Regions from separate parts of the Homo sapiens genome. Here region 2 is linked to region 1. Evidence: fine-mapped expression QTL. Tissue or cell type: whole blood. Region 1 holds a variant in brackets; the other region holds the start of a gene. All regions are shown on one strand. Distances are from middle to middle.

Evidence for each region. PIP is the estimated chance that this variant, and not a neighbour inherited with it, causes the effect.
Region 2: it holds the start of UTP18, and the variant in region 1 is fine-mapped to the expression of UTP18 in whole blood (INTERVAL, PIP above 0.99). The same link has a PIP of 0.9 or more in esophagus mucosa.

What each region holds. Positions count from the first base shown.
Region 1 is chr17:51,351,288-51,359,617 of GRCh38, forward strand. No RefSeq gene overlaps it. Among named protein-coding and RNA genes, the nearest start is that of LINC02072, 19 kb to the left of the region's middle. The variant C/T (reference allele first, on the strand shown) is at 4,649.
Region 2 is chr17:51,256,125-51,264,454 of GRCh38, forward strand. UTP18 (UTP18 small subunit processome component) reads left to right here and starts at 4,422. Exons shown (of 14, transcript NM_016001.3): 1 at 4,422-4,802; 2 at 7,150-7,262. The coding sequence starts at 4,461. It overlaps MBTD1 (mbt domain containing 1), which reads right to left and starts at 3,925. Exons shown (of 17, transcript NM_017643.3): 1 at 3,711-3,925; 2 at 3,019-3,082. RefSeq lists silencers at 3,663-3,982, 4,323-4,432, 4,783-4,972 and an enhancer at 5,443-5,492.

The DNA of each region.
Region 1 (8,330 bases):
TCCCAGAGATCAAATAGTGAGCGTGTGCTTCATTCCACATGCCCCTTGTCTTGGGGATGGGTGCTTTAAGCCTGGGGCTTGACCAGGGCACTTGCGATGCTCACGGGACTGCATAGGAAACTTGGTGCAATAGACTGTGGTATTAAAGAGCTTTTGGTCCTTGGGGCTGAGGTCGGAGTTAGCACTTTCCACGTGGCTGTTGAAGTTAATTTATGGAAGGCTTTCCTTGACGTATATCCTATGGAATGTTAAATAGGTATTGATTGAAGAAGTAGTCAAATGGGTTGGAGAAACTCATGTTCTTTGCTGCAGGACTTCTCAAGGTCTTTAAATGGTTAATGAGCTGTATGACTTGTCAAGAGGAGGATATAGCTATGTGGTTATTTCCCAAATTTATTTGGTCTTAGAACTCTGTTTTTAATGGAGCATCTCCCAAGGTGAGTGATCTGCTGAAAAGGATGTTATCATATTGGAAAGGGGAAGAATTCGATCTCCTCCACTCTCCCCTCCTCCCCTTCCCTGCCCCTTCCTTCCTTTCCCGTGATATGATACAAGATTTTTGTTCTGGGGGATGTCCTCTTTTCATTCATAAAATGAGGTTTTGTGAGGCAGCGTGGTCTGATGGAAAAATCATAAGCGCTCCCACCTCAAGGATGTTGAAAGTGCTCCTCCCTCTCCCTGTAGGAGCTTCCATCTCATCCCCTTCCCCAAGCTAACTCCTGCTTATTCATTTTCCTGGGCTCAGCTTAAACATCACATTCTTGAAAAAGCTTTTCCTTGGCCTTGGCTCAGGGAATATCTGGGACCGCAGCCCAGTTCAGCTGCTTACTAGCTGCCTGAACTCACTGGTTCAGTTGTCAACATAAGATTGCAAGAGAACTCATGCATATATTTTTGTGTATTCCTGGTGCTTGTATTTGAAGTCCAAGAAGAGGATTTTGATTATTTGTTACTTGTGGGATGATGGCAAGGTTAGGAGTGTTGAAAAAACCAGTTTGTAAGAAGAGCTCTTGCCTGGGTGTGGTGGCTCAAGCCTGTAATCCCAGCACTTTGGGAGGCCAAGGTGGGAGTATTGCTTGAGCCCAGGAGTTTGAGACCAGCCTGGGCAACATAGCTAGACCTCATCTCTACTAAAAATAAAAAAATTAGCCAGGCATATTGGTGCACACCTGTAGTCCCAGCTACTTGGGAGGCTGAGGTGGGAGGATTGCTTGAGCCCAGGGATTTGAGGCTACGGTGAGCCAAGATTGCACCACTGCACTCCAGCCTGGGTGATAGAGTGAGATGCTGCCTCAAAAAAAAAAAAAAAAAAAAAAAAAAAGAGTTCTTGGCCTGAGTGTAGATGGGGTCTTCACTGAGTCCGGTGCTGTATGTAGCTCTGCCTGTACGGCAGCCTCTGCTGCGCTCTGTGGTGGAGGAAAGGAGCACCAAAATGCGAGTTGGGAGCCCAGGGTTCCAGGCTAAATTTCGATTCTACTCCCAAGGCCTGAGGTATGCAGTTATACAAGTGATTGTGCTGTAACATGCTGATCTCTAGAAGTAATTTATTTCTATTTGTGTCATCTCCCCACAAATGCTATTGTGAGAACTGCTGCCATCTTGGTTGTTAATATGTGACTGGGAGTCAAAATGAACAGGTACAACACCAGTGACCATCCCTGCAGCACCAGAAGGCTTATGAATCATGTCTCAGAGCAGCTCTGTGGGCTCGTTGTCTCAGGAGATGCCAAACCACAGCCCTTCTATTCATTCTCTCATTAGTTCAACAGACACTGATTGAGCCTGACCCTGAGCCAGCCTCCATCAGTGCAGGGTGTGGGGGATATAGAATGAATAAGACAGTGTCCTTAACTCAAAGGGATCATCCTCAGTTTCTCCAAACCAGAGGTGCCAACCTTCCCACTGCTGTGTCTCTAGTCTGCAGTCAGGTACAATCCAACTTCTTGAATCCATTCACTTTGCATAGTGGCAGCCATTCCTCTCATTCATCAGTGTTGCCTCTTGCTTCAGGGGTCCAGCCTTTTAGTTTACAGGTCAAGAATTTTAGGGGGATCTTTCTCCTCCTCTCTGCCGACCCCCACCTTGGCCCATGGGGGTGAGAACTTCTGCTTTTACATCTCCCCGCTCAGGGAAGGACTGCCGTGTAAGCTCTGTTCCTCTCTCTGCCCTCCTGTTTCTCTTCATTAGAGGACTGGTTGAGTCATGTTTTGCTGCTGGGCAGGGTTTCTGGTGCCTCAGCAGTGGGAAAGAGGCTCCACTTTATCTTTCTGAGCTGTTTGCCCCAGGACTCAAAGACCTTTGTTCTCACTCCAAGCCTGGCCAGGTGGGGCATCCTCATGGTCTGGTGGGTTCCAAGGTCTAGACCTGGGGCAGGAGTCAGAGGCGTCCACTTTGGCCTGAGTCTAATCTGTGTTTGCCATTCCAGCTTTGTCAGAGGGCTCTACTTTGGGTGGTTTGGGGGTATAAAACTGGCCATTAATAAATCTGAAACTCTAATTCCCCTTGTTGTCTTTGTTAGCTGGTCAGCGAGAGGGGAAGAAGGGTTGGTGCCCGCGTTCTGGCTCCAGCCCTATCCCAGACCTCTAAACTTCAAAGCAGAGATGGTGAGGGACATGCTCAAGGTCCTGAGGACTCTTGGAAGATGTGGGACTTGAATTCATGTCTCCTGACTCTTGGCGCAGTGCTCTTCTCCCGTATCTGTCTCTCCTCAAATGGACAGAACTCACCAGTTGGCTCTCTGCTTGTTGAAAAGAGGGTATGGCTGTGTAGATGCCATGATAAAAATATGGAATCTGGACCCAGAGAAAATTGGGTTTCAACATTTTACATTTTCCCCTACATCTTAATTCCCTCATCTGGAAACAGGGTTAATAAGGGTATTTTCCTCAGTGTTATGACAAGCATGAAAGAATCCACATACCATGCACAACACGGTGTCTGAAACCGAGCAATTGCTCCATAAATGTTAACTATTTTCATGTCATATCAAATGAAACTTCCAGCTAGAAAAATTTTTCCCAAGAAGAGGAAAACAGTATCCAGCCAATGTAAAGTAGCAGGGCGTTTTCTTAATGAACAGTGTATCAGCTAAGTTTTTGAGGAGCAGTAATTCCTGTCTGGAATTTACCTGGGTATTGTAACTCTTCCCTACTGGCCATGTAGCCCAGGCTGAATGCTCTCAGTATATACATCTAGAACACCACAGGCGCCAATATCTATAAATAGGGAGGAAGCCATAAATGAGAGCTCATTAAGTTCTTACTGACTGCTGAAAAGTAAATTAGAAAAAATAAACAGAGCTGAACATTTGTGTAAACCTCAATCTTTTTGATGTTTTTCAATTAGCAGAGCCATTTTTCATGTGAAAAATTAATGGCTGTCATGTGCCACCTGGCTTATAGAATCAAGTGACAATTTGTTTTAATGACCATTTTCTACCTCTGGATTCAGGTGGACATGACCAGTTACAGGCCATTGGCGATGGGAGGAGGCAAAGGGGAGTGGGCCTTTAGGGAGCACTGCCCCCATGCCAGGCACAGTGCCAGGCTTGCAATGCACGTCCTTCCCTGAATTTCCTCCATGGCCCAATGAGGCTGTTGTTATCCTCATTTTATACATGTGGTTCTGAGAGGTGAAGAAATTGCCCAAGGTCACACATAGATGTTCAGGGCAGTCTGATTCTATAATTTGTGTCTATTCCACCAAATCACATTCTGCAGAGGGAGAAAGATTTGGCAGGAAGGAGGGAGGTGCCTGCTGATCTCTGGCAGGCAGCCTGCAACAAGGGTGGGACTGAACCAAGTGGTGGGGGTTGACATGGGCAGAGTCCAGCAACAGGGATCCTGGTGTGGGAGATGCTTAGGGTTCTGTCAGCGCAGAGGTCTCTCTTTGAATAGCAAAGCATTTGTCATCAGACTAGGGCTCAGAGTAGAAGTCCAGTCTCTGGGAGGGAGACTGAGAGTAAGGCAGGAGCCAGGCAGGATGTCTGTTTCAGAAGGGACCCGAGTTAGCAGTTGCTCAGTAAGACCACTGCATAGTTGATGAGGCCAAGAAACTAGAGGCAGACACCACGTCAAAGGCCACCTGTAATGCTGGAGCCACCTCATTAGAGTTGGCACAGTAGCAAGGAAGACTGAGGCAGAGCTGACACATTCTGTCTGGAGCTGCCTTTTGGAGGGAAGTGAGGGGAAGAAACTGCATGTGGAGTCAGAAGCCTCAGCTGTGGGCAGGGCTGGAGCAGCGGAGCAGGCCTGAGAGCCAGGCAGGGGCTGATGACCGTGATGACAGCTTTCACGGATTGTGGGATGGGCCCTTTTATGCATAATCTTTAATCCTGAAATAACTTCAGGGGATAGGCACTACTATCTCTTTTTGTATATGGGGAAGTGGAAGTTCAGAGAGACAGAGGGGTGAGGTCCTTTGCTTACAGGCACACAGTGGCCATCTGGCAAAGCAGAAATGAAAACCCAAAGATCTGTGCATGTTCCTCCCGCTCCCATACTGCCTCCCTGCCATCCCTAATTCAAAACAGATGATTACTTTCTCCATCCACTGCTTCTTCCCTGCCCTGCCTGTAACTGACCAGCGCCAGTCTGCAGAAACAGCAGCAGCCTTGGATTTAATTTTCTGGGCATTATAACCGACACTG[C/T]GGAGAACATCTCGGCTCTAGGGACAAATCTGTCTGATGACAGTGCACACGTGAGCTCCTTCCTAGACTGAGGGTGGAGCCGCTGGACCTGACAGTTGCAGCTTATTCTCCCTTTTGGTAATAATGCACGACTAGGCAAGAGAGGAAAAAACCTGCCGAGTAATTCTTTAATTTTAAAGAGTATTTCTCCAAGGCGCAGGAATCAATCAGCCCTTGGGATCCGAGCTTCTGTTCCAGGGGAGGGCGACTTAGGAACAGCTCTGCCTCCCTCAGGCAGGGTAGGGACTCAGTGACCTCAGAAAGATTTCTCGCAGCCGCAGGCTCCTCTTAGGAGTTTTGCTGATTGGTTTGGACTTTACTTTGAACGTGGCAGTAGATAGAAGTGTTAAGATTTTTCATAAGTCTGTCTTTCCATTTTCTTTCCTCTTCTAATTCCTGAGGTTCATAATTATTCTGTTCACCCTTTTGTAGTTGGATAACTGATTTTTGTTGTTGCTGTTGTTGTTGTTGCTATTTCTTTGGGCAGTTTGAATATTCTTCAATGTACATTCCTAGAAGCCTTCCAGAAGCCACGTTCTTCTTCTGGGCAATTCTAGGGAGATGGTGTTTGTTCCAGCCCTGGCCTTGCTGATTGACTGTTTAAAATTTACTCTCCCTGTCTCTGTTCCTCTCTCTTTACAGCATTATTTATCTACCAGTTCATCTACCCACCAATAGTCAATTTATCTATGTAACTATCCATTTGTTCCTCCATGCATGTCATGGTCCTGAATTAGCAAAGATTATGATGCTCGGCTAAGGGACAGCCCTTATAGACTACTCACACTTTCCTATAGCCATAGAAAGCAAAGAGAGTTAAATAAAAAATGAAAAATGCAATTAATCTCAAACCTTGTTGGAATTTATCATTTTTCTAAATGCCCTAAAAGGTTCTCTTCTTTTCTGTGTTGCAGACAGAACAGAAAGAAAATCAGACTTATGTCGATGGGGGTTTTAGACCTTATATCCACAGGTCAGATTTGTAAGGTTGAAGAAAGGAGGTGGGCACCCAAGGGTGAGGACAGCTGCTCACTGATCTCTCCTGATTGCCCACAGGGTAGGTCTTGCACTCTAGATCCCAGGTGAGGGTTTGGGAATCATTGCTTGTCCTTGATCACTTTGTTCTACAGCATCACCCCGAGACATCCATTCACAACTCTGAGATAAGTAACCTTGGAATGGGGAAGTTCTGGTACCTCTTCCAGATGCCTATCTGCTTTCCTTTTATTTTTTCAGAATTAATCCACTTTAATTTTTAAACTTTTTTTTTTTTTTTTTTTTAGGTAGAGTCTCACTCTGTCTCCCAGGTTGGAGTGCAGTGGCGTGATCTCGGCTCACTGCAACCTCTGCCTCCCAGGTTCAAGCCATTCTCCTGCCTCAGCCTCCCGAGTAGCTTAGACTACAGGTGCGCACCACCGTGCCCAGCTAATTTTTGTATTTTTAGTAGAGACAGGGTTTCACTATGTTGGCCAGGCTGGTCTTGAACTCCTGACCTTCAGTGATCCTCCCACCTTAGCCTCCCAAAGAGCTGGGATTACAGGCGTGAGCCACCATGCCTGGCTAATTTGTAAACTTTTAATTGATGAATAATAATCATATATATTTATGGGGTACAATGTGATGTTTCCATACATGTAGGCATTGTAGAATTGATCAAATCAGGCTAATGAACATATCCATCACCTCAATACTTATCTTTTTTTTTGTGATGAGGACTTCTAAAATCTACTCTATGAGTTCAGCTTTTGAAGATTCCATACATGACTGGGCGTGGTGGGTCATGCCTGTAATCCCAGCACTTTGGGAGGCCGAGGCGGGTGGATCACTTGAGGTCAGGAGTTCGAGACCAGCCTGACCAATATGGTGAAACCCCATCTCTACTAAAAATACAAAAATTAGCTGGGTGTGGTGGCAGGTGCCTGTAGTCTCAGCTACCTGGGAGGCTGAGACAGAAGAACTGCTTGAACCCGGGAGTTGGAGGTTGCAATGAGCCGAGATCACGCCACTGCACTCCAGCCTGGGTGACAGAGTGAGACTCCATCTCAAAGAAAAAAAAAAAAGATTCCATATATATGTGAGATCATGTGTAGTATTTGTCTTTCTGAGCCTGGCTTATATCACTGAGCATAGTGTCCTCTAGATTCATCCATGTTGTTGCAAGTGACAGAATTTTCTTCTTTTTCAAGGCTGAATATATTCTGTTGTATATATAGACACCACATTTAAAAAATCAATTTATTCATTGACAGGCACTTAGGTTGTTTCCAGATCTTGGCTATTGTGAATGATGTGGCAATGAACATGGGATGCAGACATCTCCTTGACATACTGATCTCAATTCCTTTGAATAGAAACCCGGAAGTGGGATTGGTGGATCATATGGTAGTTCTGTTTTCAATTTTGTGAGGAACTGCCATATTGTTTTCCACAATGGCTGTGCTCATTTCCATTCCCACCAATGATGTATAGGAATTCCCCTCTCTTCAAATCTTTGGCAGCATTTGTTATCTTTTGATAATAGCCATTCTAACTGGGGTGAAGTGATATCTTATTGTGGCCTTGATTTGCATGTCCCTAATGACTGGCGATGTTGGGCATTTTTTCATCTATCTGTTGGCCATTTATACAGCCTCTCAAGAAATGGCTATTCAGGTCTTTTGCCAATTTTAAAATAGAGTGGGCCAGGTGTGGTGGCTCATGCCTGTTATCCCTGCACTTTGGGAGGCCGAGGTGGCTGGATTGCTTGAGCCCAGGAGTTTGAGACCAGCCTGGGCAAACTGATGAAGTCCTATCTTTATCAAAAACAAAAACAAAAAATTAGCTGAGTATGGTGGCATGCACCTGTCCCTGCTTAAGATTAAGTAGTCCCAGCTACTCAGGAGGCTGAGGTGGGAGGATCGCTTGAGCCCGGGAGGTGGATGTTGCAGTGAGCCAAGATCATGCCACTGCACTCCATCCTGGGCAACAGAGTGAGAGCTTGTCTCAAAAATGAAACAAACAAAAAAAGAATTATTCGTTTTCCTGTTACTGAGTAGTTTGAGTTTCTTATGTATTTTGGGTATTAGCGCCTTATCTGATGCATGATTTGCAAATATTTTCTCCCAATCTGTAGGTTGTCTCTTCACCTGTTGTTTCCTTTGCTGTGCAGAAGCGTTTTAGTTTGATGCAATCCCGTTAGTCTATTTTTGCTTTTGTTGCCAGTGTTTGTGAGGTGAATGATATCCACGGAATACTTTCCCAGACCAATGGGGTAGAGCTTTTCCTGTTTTCTTCTAGTAGTTTTACAGTTCCTTATTCACCTTTCTTCACGGCCATTCACAAAAAAGCCAGGACAAGCTGCTGGTGCTCCAAGGCTATAGTTTCTCTGCTTCTCTTTGTTCTCCTAGGATATTCTGAGTTGAATAACATAGTGTTACTTCATCCTTCTATTTCCATCAACATGTGAGACTAGCTTTTATACAATGGCTATTTTAAAAACTTCTTAGATATTTGAACTCTATTTCAAGCAGTTCTGCTGAATTTAGAGTCCCATATTGACAATTTTTTGATAGTATAATATCAAAAAATGAAGCTTTATCTTGCCATTTTCTGCAGCAAAAAGAAAAAGTATATATCTTTTGTAAATATACTGTCTAAAGTTGTA
Region 2 (8,330 bases), 95 kb before region 1:
TGGGAACACATCTTAACATTTTATCTTATGACTTGTCTCATCTTTTATAGCAGCTTACTTTTTTTAAACAGCGGGCATAACATCTGAGTGGAGGTTTACAGAAACTACAGGAGGCAGGGCTGATGTTCACCCTGTATTTCAGATGAGGAAAGTGAAGCTTTCAAAGAGGTTACACAACTCACCTAAGATCGCAGTTCAGAGAGGTAGCTTGCTGACTTTGTCCAGAGCTCACTTCTACTAGACTAAATTCTAAATTATCAGTGCTAAAGTGAGAACTCGAAGGGACCTCAGAAATCTCCTAATGGAGTGTTTCCCTAACCAACCTGATAAACTTTCTGGGGTATACATTAAAAACACATTCCCAGGACCCACTGCAGACCTACTAAATAAGTTATAGGAGAGAAGTTTAGTATTTTAACAAGAGCCTCCAAGAAGTGATTATAATGATTAGTTATGCTTAGAAAACAGTGTTCTATGTGTGTATGTCCAGTATGCCAGACATTTGGCTACTTAAATTTACATTGCCTAAAACAGCAAAATTAAAAATTGAGTTCTTCAATTTTTAGTTCCACTAGTTACATTTCAAGTGCTCAACAACCACATGTGGCTAGTGGCTACCGTAACTGGACAGCAAAGATATAGGAAATTTCCATCATTGCAGAAACTTCTATTGGATTATGCTGATACTAGACTAACCCTTCAACTGCCATGAGAAAATGGAGGCACAGGATCTTGTCCAACAAGGGCCATGGAGCTACTCAATGGCAGAATTGTGACATCAACCTCACTGCCAGCACCCCTCTTATTGTATCACTTCATCCTATCTCATATTCAGGGTTTGTTCAAATGGGAATTATTTCCTTTTCACCTTTTATTGTGGGTTCCAGCAAAGCAAGAAGAGAAATCCTAAATTTGCAGGTAAAAAAATCCTTAAGCCAAGGTTTATTAAAAAATAATGATTAAATCTATGTGCAATTTTTGCCTGAAATCAAAAGTCATCTTGCACAGTTAAGAATACTGTGGTGTTAGGAGAAATATCTTAGCTTGTTTTAACTATTGTAAGTCCTTTCTCTTTTATTGTCCTGATGTTTTTATTCTTTCTTGAATTTTGAAACCCTCAGACTAATGATACATAAGTGTGAAAGGTTATATCTTATTTAGCAAACATTTTAAAGATGAAAAGCTGAGAAACAAAGAGCAACCCAAAGAATGTCACTTGTCTAATTTTAGAATGTGGTTACTCAGACTACTGAGCACTCTTGGCTTTTAGTAATTCAGTGGTTTAGTATTTATCCTAATATGTTGTTTTCACTTTTAAACTATAGCTTATATTTTCCTTTGATCACTATGTTACATTTGAAAACAATTTAAAATGTTGTTTTAATTTTCAACATTATTGAGGGACCAAAAGCAGCACTAGAACATCTAGAAAGGTTTAGATAATAAGGTCAACATATAACCAGCTTTAAAGAATATGGCAGCGTCTTAAAAATAAAACCAGTTGTTCCTGTCTAGTATGTTTAGAATGCAGATGTCTCCAAAGTCAGTCAACTTAAGTCATGACAGTTCATGTTTAAAGTAAGCAGGAAAAAAACTTGGAACTCCTTATTAATTAAAATGTTAAAAACACTATTATTACACCTCTACTGATTCTTTTTCACAAGCTGAATTCTAATGAGTAGATTTAGAGGAAATATTTTATGTCAAACATTACATAAAGTTAGAAACTGGATGGTTAAAAAGCATGACGCAACAACGTAAGGCACTATGAATAAATACTTATTCAAGACAGATGTTGCCATAATTTGCAAGGTACTCACAAGCAATCAGTATGGGGTTTTAGATAGATAGAAGCTACTTGTTATTCAGAGAAGGAGGTGGTGCAAAAAAAAAAAAAAAGTACAGCTATTTTCTTTCTAAACACTCTGGTGTTGAGGTAAACAAATGAAAAATAAAATAACAGTCTAAGTCCACAAGAGCAAAGCAACAGTCTCTAAGTTATAAGAGGAGGAGAGAAAAATTGAGTCTAACCTTTTAAATAGGAGACTGGGGCTTAAGGTGAAATTTATTTGCTGGCTTTTAAATCACATGCATTATTTCTACATTATACCTGTTATGTCTTGACACCCACTTCACCACATTAGAGAGTAATAGGTATATCCAAGATTCTTAGGCCAATAAAACTACTTTTAGAGGCAGCATAGCTCACCAAATGAAGGAGAATGTTAGAAAAACACCCAGTGACAATAGTTTCAACTATCTCAACCACCCAGTGATAAGTACTGGTGCATGCTAATATAAGGAGAATTAAAAATATTGTAAACTCTAAACAAGTATTAAAATGGTTCGTAAATTTCAAATCTCATAAAAGATAGTTACTTAAAAAAAAAAAAGAAGGAGTAAAAGCATTTGGAAGAGAGGCCCTTGGAGGAAAGACTAGCTTCCGAGGAACACAGGTCAAATACGGGTGTGGGCGGTAATCATCTAATCATCCCTCTACCAGGTGATGCTTCTAACCACTTCAGTTTTAGACATCCTTAGAAGTGATTTAGGTAATAAACAAATGTGTTTTGTGATACAAGAACCACGGAGATGACGCTGAAATTTCTAACTTCAAAAAGATGCACTCCTAAGAGAAAACAGGCACGAAATTCCCATATTGTAATTCTTTAGCTTCCTGTAGAAAAACATCTTCAGGCATGTAAGCCAGCACACTTGACACTGACCCAGCAAAGTTTTCGGCTAGCCCTCACTATCTCTCAACCCCCCTTCCTCCACTTCCCTGCTGTTCTTTCTTGGCACACAAAATATAGGCCAATGAGCAGTGGGTGGGTGAGGAGGATGTGAGAGAAAATTTGAGAAGTAAAAAAAGGAGCAACTTAACCAGGACATGAATGAGACTGAAGGGTCTAATAAGGGTAGGCAGACAACAATTAGAACTACTGAAATATGGGCTTTCCTGGGCAGTAGTGAGCTCTCAGTGCTTTTAGGGGTGTAAGCAGGGTTCAGACTACCTACCACTTGTCAGAGAGGCTGCAGAGGGGACGGCTGCTTTGGATGACCTCTAATGTCTCTTCCGACTCTGAAATGTTAGGATTCTTATTTCACAAAGGAGAACGCAATGGTCACAGAAGTCCACCGACTTGAAACCCTTTTAAATATGCAGCCTTGGAGGCTGCTTCCCAAACACCACTCCCACCTCTCCCGCACGTGCCCACCCCGCCCCCTTTCAATATTTCCACCTCCACGTGCAAACCGCCTCGCGGCACTGCCCCCAAGGCAGATAGACACCTTCCCCTGCAAAGCAACGAAACTGTGCTCCCCCTCCCCGCCAAGAAGAGAGGACTACTCCACTCTCCCACCCTGGGTGGCTAAAAAAGGAAAAGTCTCGGATCCAGCCTTTCCCCCCTAGCCAGAGCAGGGGGCGGGGGCAGGACGCAGAGAAAAACTTTCTTCTCGAATTTTTCTTCCAAAGGGTGGAGGAGATGGAGAGAACCCCAACGAGTCCAAGGCTGACGGGGTGGGGGGAGGGGAACCCCTGAATCGTTTAACGGCTGGAAGGGGGAGGGGGGCTCCGGAGGTTGAGAGGGCGTGGGATGGAGAAGCAGGCCAGGGAGCGGGGTCAGGGAGCTGCGGGGTTCCTGGGGTCGGAGAGCTGCAGGCGTCCCCCCCACCTGGCACACAAAGCGGCTGCCGCGCTCGGCTCTCACCAGATCCTTTGTGTTTTCCATCAGGGCCTCATGGGTAGGGGTTGTCCGTGCTCCCCGAGCCCGCGGCGCCCCCTCCCCGGGCTGGGGGCAGGTGCCTCTCCCCGGGACTGCGGCGACTACAGGGGGCCCCCGGCTGGGCCCAGACCGGTGGCGGGTGCAGCAGCCCCCGGATTTCCCCCCTTTAACTCGGGTGGCCCCAGGATATCAACAACATTAGCATAGCCCTCCCTCCCCAGCGCGCCTGCGCCGTGACCCGCGCCCCGATTGGCCCACTTCCCTACATACCCTCCTCTCTCGCTTCCACCGTGGGACCCTCTGCAGGCTCCGTACTCCAAGGACCGTACCAAGACGAAGGGTGGAAAGCGTATTGGGGCTTGTGTCAAGTCAAGTGGTTACAGCCAAGAGGAAAAGCAGAAGTTCCATTCAGCCGTCCCAGTGTATAGTCGGGGTTTCTTGCGCTCCTTTCAATATGTTGCAGCTGCGAAATTGTGTTGGAAAAATTTTCCACTCCAGTCACGCCGCTTCCCCCTACACCCGGAAGATTGGCCCTCCCGGAGGAACTCCCACACGGGGCGGGGCTGGGTAGGGGAGCGGGAGTTACGTAGAGGGAGGGAGTGCTGGTCACGTGGCAAGAGGCTGCGCAGGCTCCTTCCGGCCCCCGGGGCTTCGGCGGCGGCGGCCCGCGAGGGGCCTGGGCGCATGCGCAGCGAGGTTCCACGTGAGCGCCTGCGTTTCTCCTCAAACCTAACGATGCCGCCGGAGCGGAGGAGACGAATGAAACTGGACCGGAGAACCGGAGCGAAGCCGAAGCGGAAGCCCGGAATGAGGCCGGACTGGAAAGCCGGAGCGGGGCCAGGCGGGCCTCCCCAAAAGCCTGCCCCTTCATCCCAGCGGAAACCGCCGGCCCGGCCGAGCGCGGCGGCCGCTGCGATTGCAGTCGCGGCGGCGGAGGAAGAGAGACGGCTCCGGCAGCGGAACCGCCTGAGGCTGGAGGAGGACAAACCGGCCGTGGAGCGGTGCTTGGAGGAGCTGGTCTTCGGCGACGTCGAGAACGACGAGGACGCGTTGCTGCGGCGTCTGCGAGGCCCGAGGGTGAGGGAGGCCGCGGCGCGCGGGCTGGGCGCACTCGGGCGGGGCGCGCGGTGGGCGGTGAAGCTCCGGGGGGCGGAGCCTGGGCGACCTGCGGCGGCGGGGAGCGCTCAGGTGGGAGGGAGCCCGAGAACGCGGGCGCGGAGGGTCGCAGCTGCGGGTCCCTCGCCTCCCTGCTCCAGACTGAAAGTGCCTGGAGGGCGGGGACCGCGTCTTTCTCCGCCCCTGGAGGCGCCGCTGCTCGGGTATCTGCTTTGCGAACTGTGGTCGTGAGCATCTTTCGCTGCTGCTCGACTCCGCTAGCCTCTTCCCAAACTGAGGGTGGTCTTTTGATCACCTGCCTCAGTTCCTTGTGATTCAGGAATTCGATTTCGTTGATGGAATCAATTCGTGGGCACGGGCCTGGGCATCTCCGTTGTAACTATGTCCCCATGTGACTATGAGACCCACCATGTTTTGAGAATGATCGTGTATTCCGTTCATTTAGCAAATATTGGTGAACCTGTTAGTTGCCAGATACCCTTTCTGGCAATGGCAAACCCTGCGTGATTGATCATACTTTTTGCACACATTTTGCTATCCCTTTAAATTCTATACCAGGCTTTTCTTGAGAGAGTCCCGGACATTGTTCTAGGCACTGGAGGAGACACAGCAATGGACAAAACTGACAAAAATCCCTGCCTTTTGGCGCTTGTGTGCTAGTGGCAGAGACAAGATAGAGGAGATAAACGAGTAAACTTCAGGTTTGTTGGTGACAAGTGCTGAAGAGAAAAAAGGACATTCGGGAAAGGGAGATGGGCGTGTGTAGAGGCCTGTGAAATTTTAGATAAAGGGGGCAGAGGAAAGCTCACCGAGAATTACCCAGGCCATGTTTATTACACAAATGCTGACCTAGTTAATGTCAGCTGCTTACCAGAGCCGCCTTCGGGTGCTTGTAGGAGAAGTGGCAGCAATCTTTTTGGGAAGTACAGAACTATTACTGGAAACATGCTGAACTGTGCGACGGTTTTGTCGTCTGGAAAAGGAACAGTGTACGGAGGTGGGAGCTGTTGGGTTTGAAGGCTATTAGACTAGTAGTAGAGCAAGTAGAAACCACTTGGACATTTCTATCATTGGTTTTGGGAAGCTCAAACTCACTTCAAGGGATATTCTGTGGTCTAGGTTTAGATTTTTTTTTTTTTTTAGACTCGCCCTGTCGCCCAGGCTGGAGTGCAGTGGCGCCATCTCGGCTCACTGCAACCTCCACTTCCTGGGTTCAAGCGATTCTCCTGCCTCAGCCTCTGGAGTAGCTGGCATTACAGGCGTGCGCCACCACGCCTGGCTAATTTTTTTTTGTATCTTTAGTAGAAACGGGGTTTCACCATCTTCGCCAGGCTGGTCTCAAACTCCTGACCTCGTGATCCGCCCGCCTCGGCCTCCCAAAGTGCTGAGACTACAAGTGTGAGCCACCGCACCCGGCCTAGGTTTAGATTTGATAGTATAAACTTTATGGTATAAATTTATAACTTTAGAATTTAGATTTAATGGTATATTTATTTTTTACTTATTTAGAGATACGGTCTAACTTTGTCACCCAGACTGGAGTGTAGCGGCACCTATTAGTCTTCCATCTCCCTTTTGCTAATAGTAACTGGTTGCTCTTCTTGTTGGTCACAGATAAATTACACCTGCACAATTCTCCGAACACTTTAAACTCAGAAGTCAGCTTCATCCTCCTAGGCTCAAGTGATCCTCCTGCCTCTGCCTCCCAAGTAGTTAGCTGGGGCCACAGGTGCACACCACACACCCAGCTAAATTTAAAAATTTTCTGTAGAGACGAGATCTCCCTATGTTGCCCAGGCTGGACTCGAACTCCTGGGCCCAAGCAGTCCTCCCACCTTGACCTCCCAAAGTGTTGGGATTACAGGCATGAGGCATTGCGCTCTCTGCTGGTATAAAGTTTCTTAAGGAGGTAGGGGGTCAAAAACAGATTGGGAAAATGGAGATATCTTTGACTCTAGTTTGCCTCCGGTCCTGTAATTTCTGTAGTTCTGACATTTCTCCTCCTTTTTTCATCTGCAGACTCATCTTTTGTTCTTGTCTTACTTGGTGTTTTCCTTCCTGCGTGTTGAGTGTTGACTTTTTCTCCTTGACTGTTCCATCTTGCCTCACCTGTCCAGTCGGTGCCATTCTCTGATTTCTCCATTTTCTGCCTCTGCTTCCAGCATTTGCAATGGTAGCATTCCATCCCATTATTTCATCAGAGAGTGGTAGAAAAAACATTCTATGAGCCATTTGGCTGTAAGGCCTATGTGTCTGCAGTCATGGGATAGGAAAATCTCAGTGCTTGAGGGTGTTTTGTCTGCTGTAGGTTCAAGAACATGAAGACTCGGGTGACTCAGAAGTGGAGAATGAAGCAAAAGGTAATTTTCCACCTCAAAAGAAGCCAGTTTGGGTGGATGAAGAAGATGAAGATGAGGAAATGTAAGTTGCCTAACTTTTCTTCTGAATCCCTCTGTACACTTAAAAAAGTTATTTTGCAGATTTTAAAATCATTCTTTTTACCAATTTGTGATTATGTGAAGATTTGAAAAATATTTGAAAGTATAGAAAAGATCTTTCATGGTTCCTGATCCCACCACCGAGGGAGAACTGCTGTTAGCATGTTGTCACACTTCTGTCTCAGTCTCCTCTTTGCTGTATACAGTAGCTAAGAGAATACAGTGTTTGAAGTCAGATCTCGATTTGCCTCCTCTTTTGGCCAGTTTCTAATTGACCATGGGCAGTTTGGAACCTACATTTTTTCCTTTGTGAAATGGGCACAATGATAGTAACTACATCAGAATTTTGTTGGGATTAAACAAAATAGTACTTGTAGAACTTTTAGCACAGTGCCTGAAACTGAGTAAAGGCTAAAAAGAAGGTAGCTCACACCATAGGAACTGTCATGGATGAGAATGTACTGTATGCTTGATTTAACATTTTGACTTTTTCTACATAAAGTTACTTTGTAAACATTTCTCCCTACTTAAAAAAAATAGACATTTTAAAATGGCTATGTTGGAGTCAATTATGTGAATTAACCATAATTTACGTGGCTATTGTTGGGTAGATTTTCTTTTTCCCTTTTTTTTTTTTTAATTATTTTTTTTGAAACAGAGTCTTGCTGTTTCACCTAGGCTGGAGTGCAGTGGTGCGATCTTGGTTCACTGCAACCTCTGCCTCCTGGGTTCAAGCGATTCTCCTGCCTCAGCCTCCCGAGTAGCTGTGACTACAGGCGTGTGCCACCACACCTGGCTAATTTTTGTATTTTTAGTAGAGACAGAGTTAGACGGAGTTTTGCTACGTTGGCCAGGCTGGTCTTGAACTCCTGACCTCAAGTATACACCCGTCTCTGCCTCCCAAAGTGCTGAGATTACAGGCGTGAACTGCTGTGCCCAGCCTTATTTTTCCCTTTAATGCAGATTATTTCAGCATTAATGTTTATCACCTCTTTATGTATAAACCTTTCTTTATTTTCTAATTTATTGCCTTAAGAAAGATTCTTTGAGG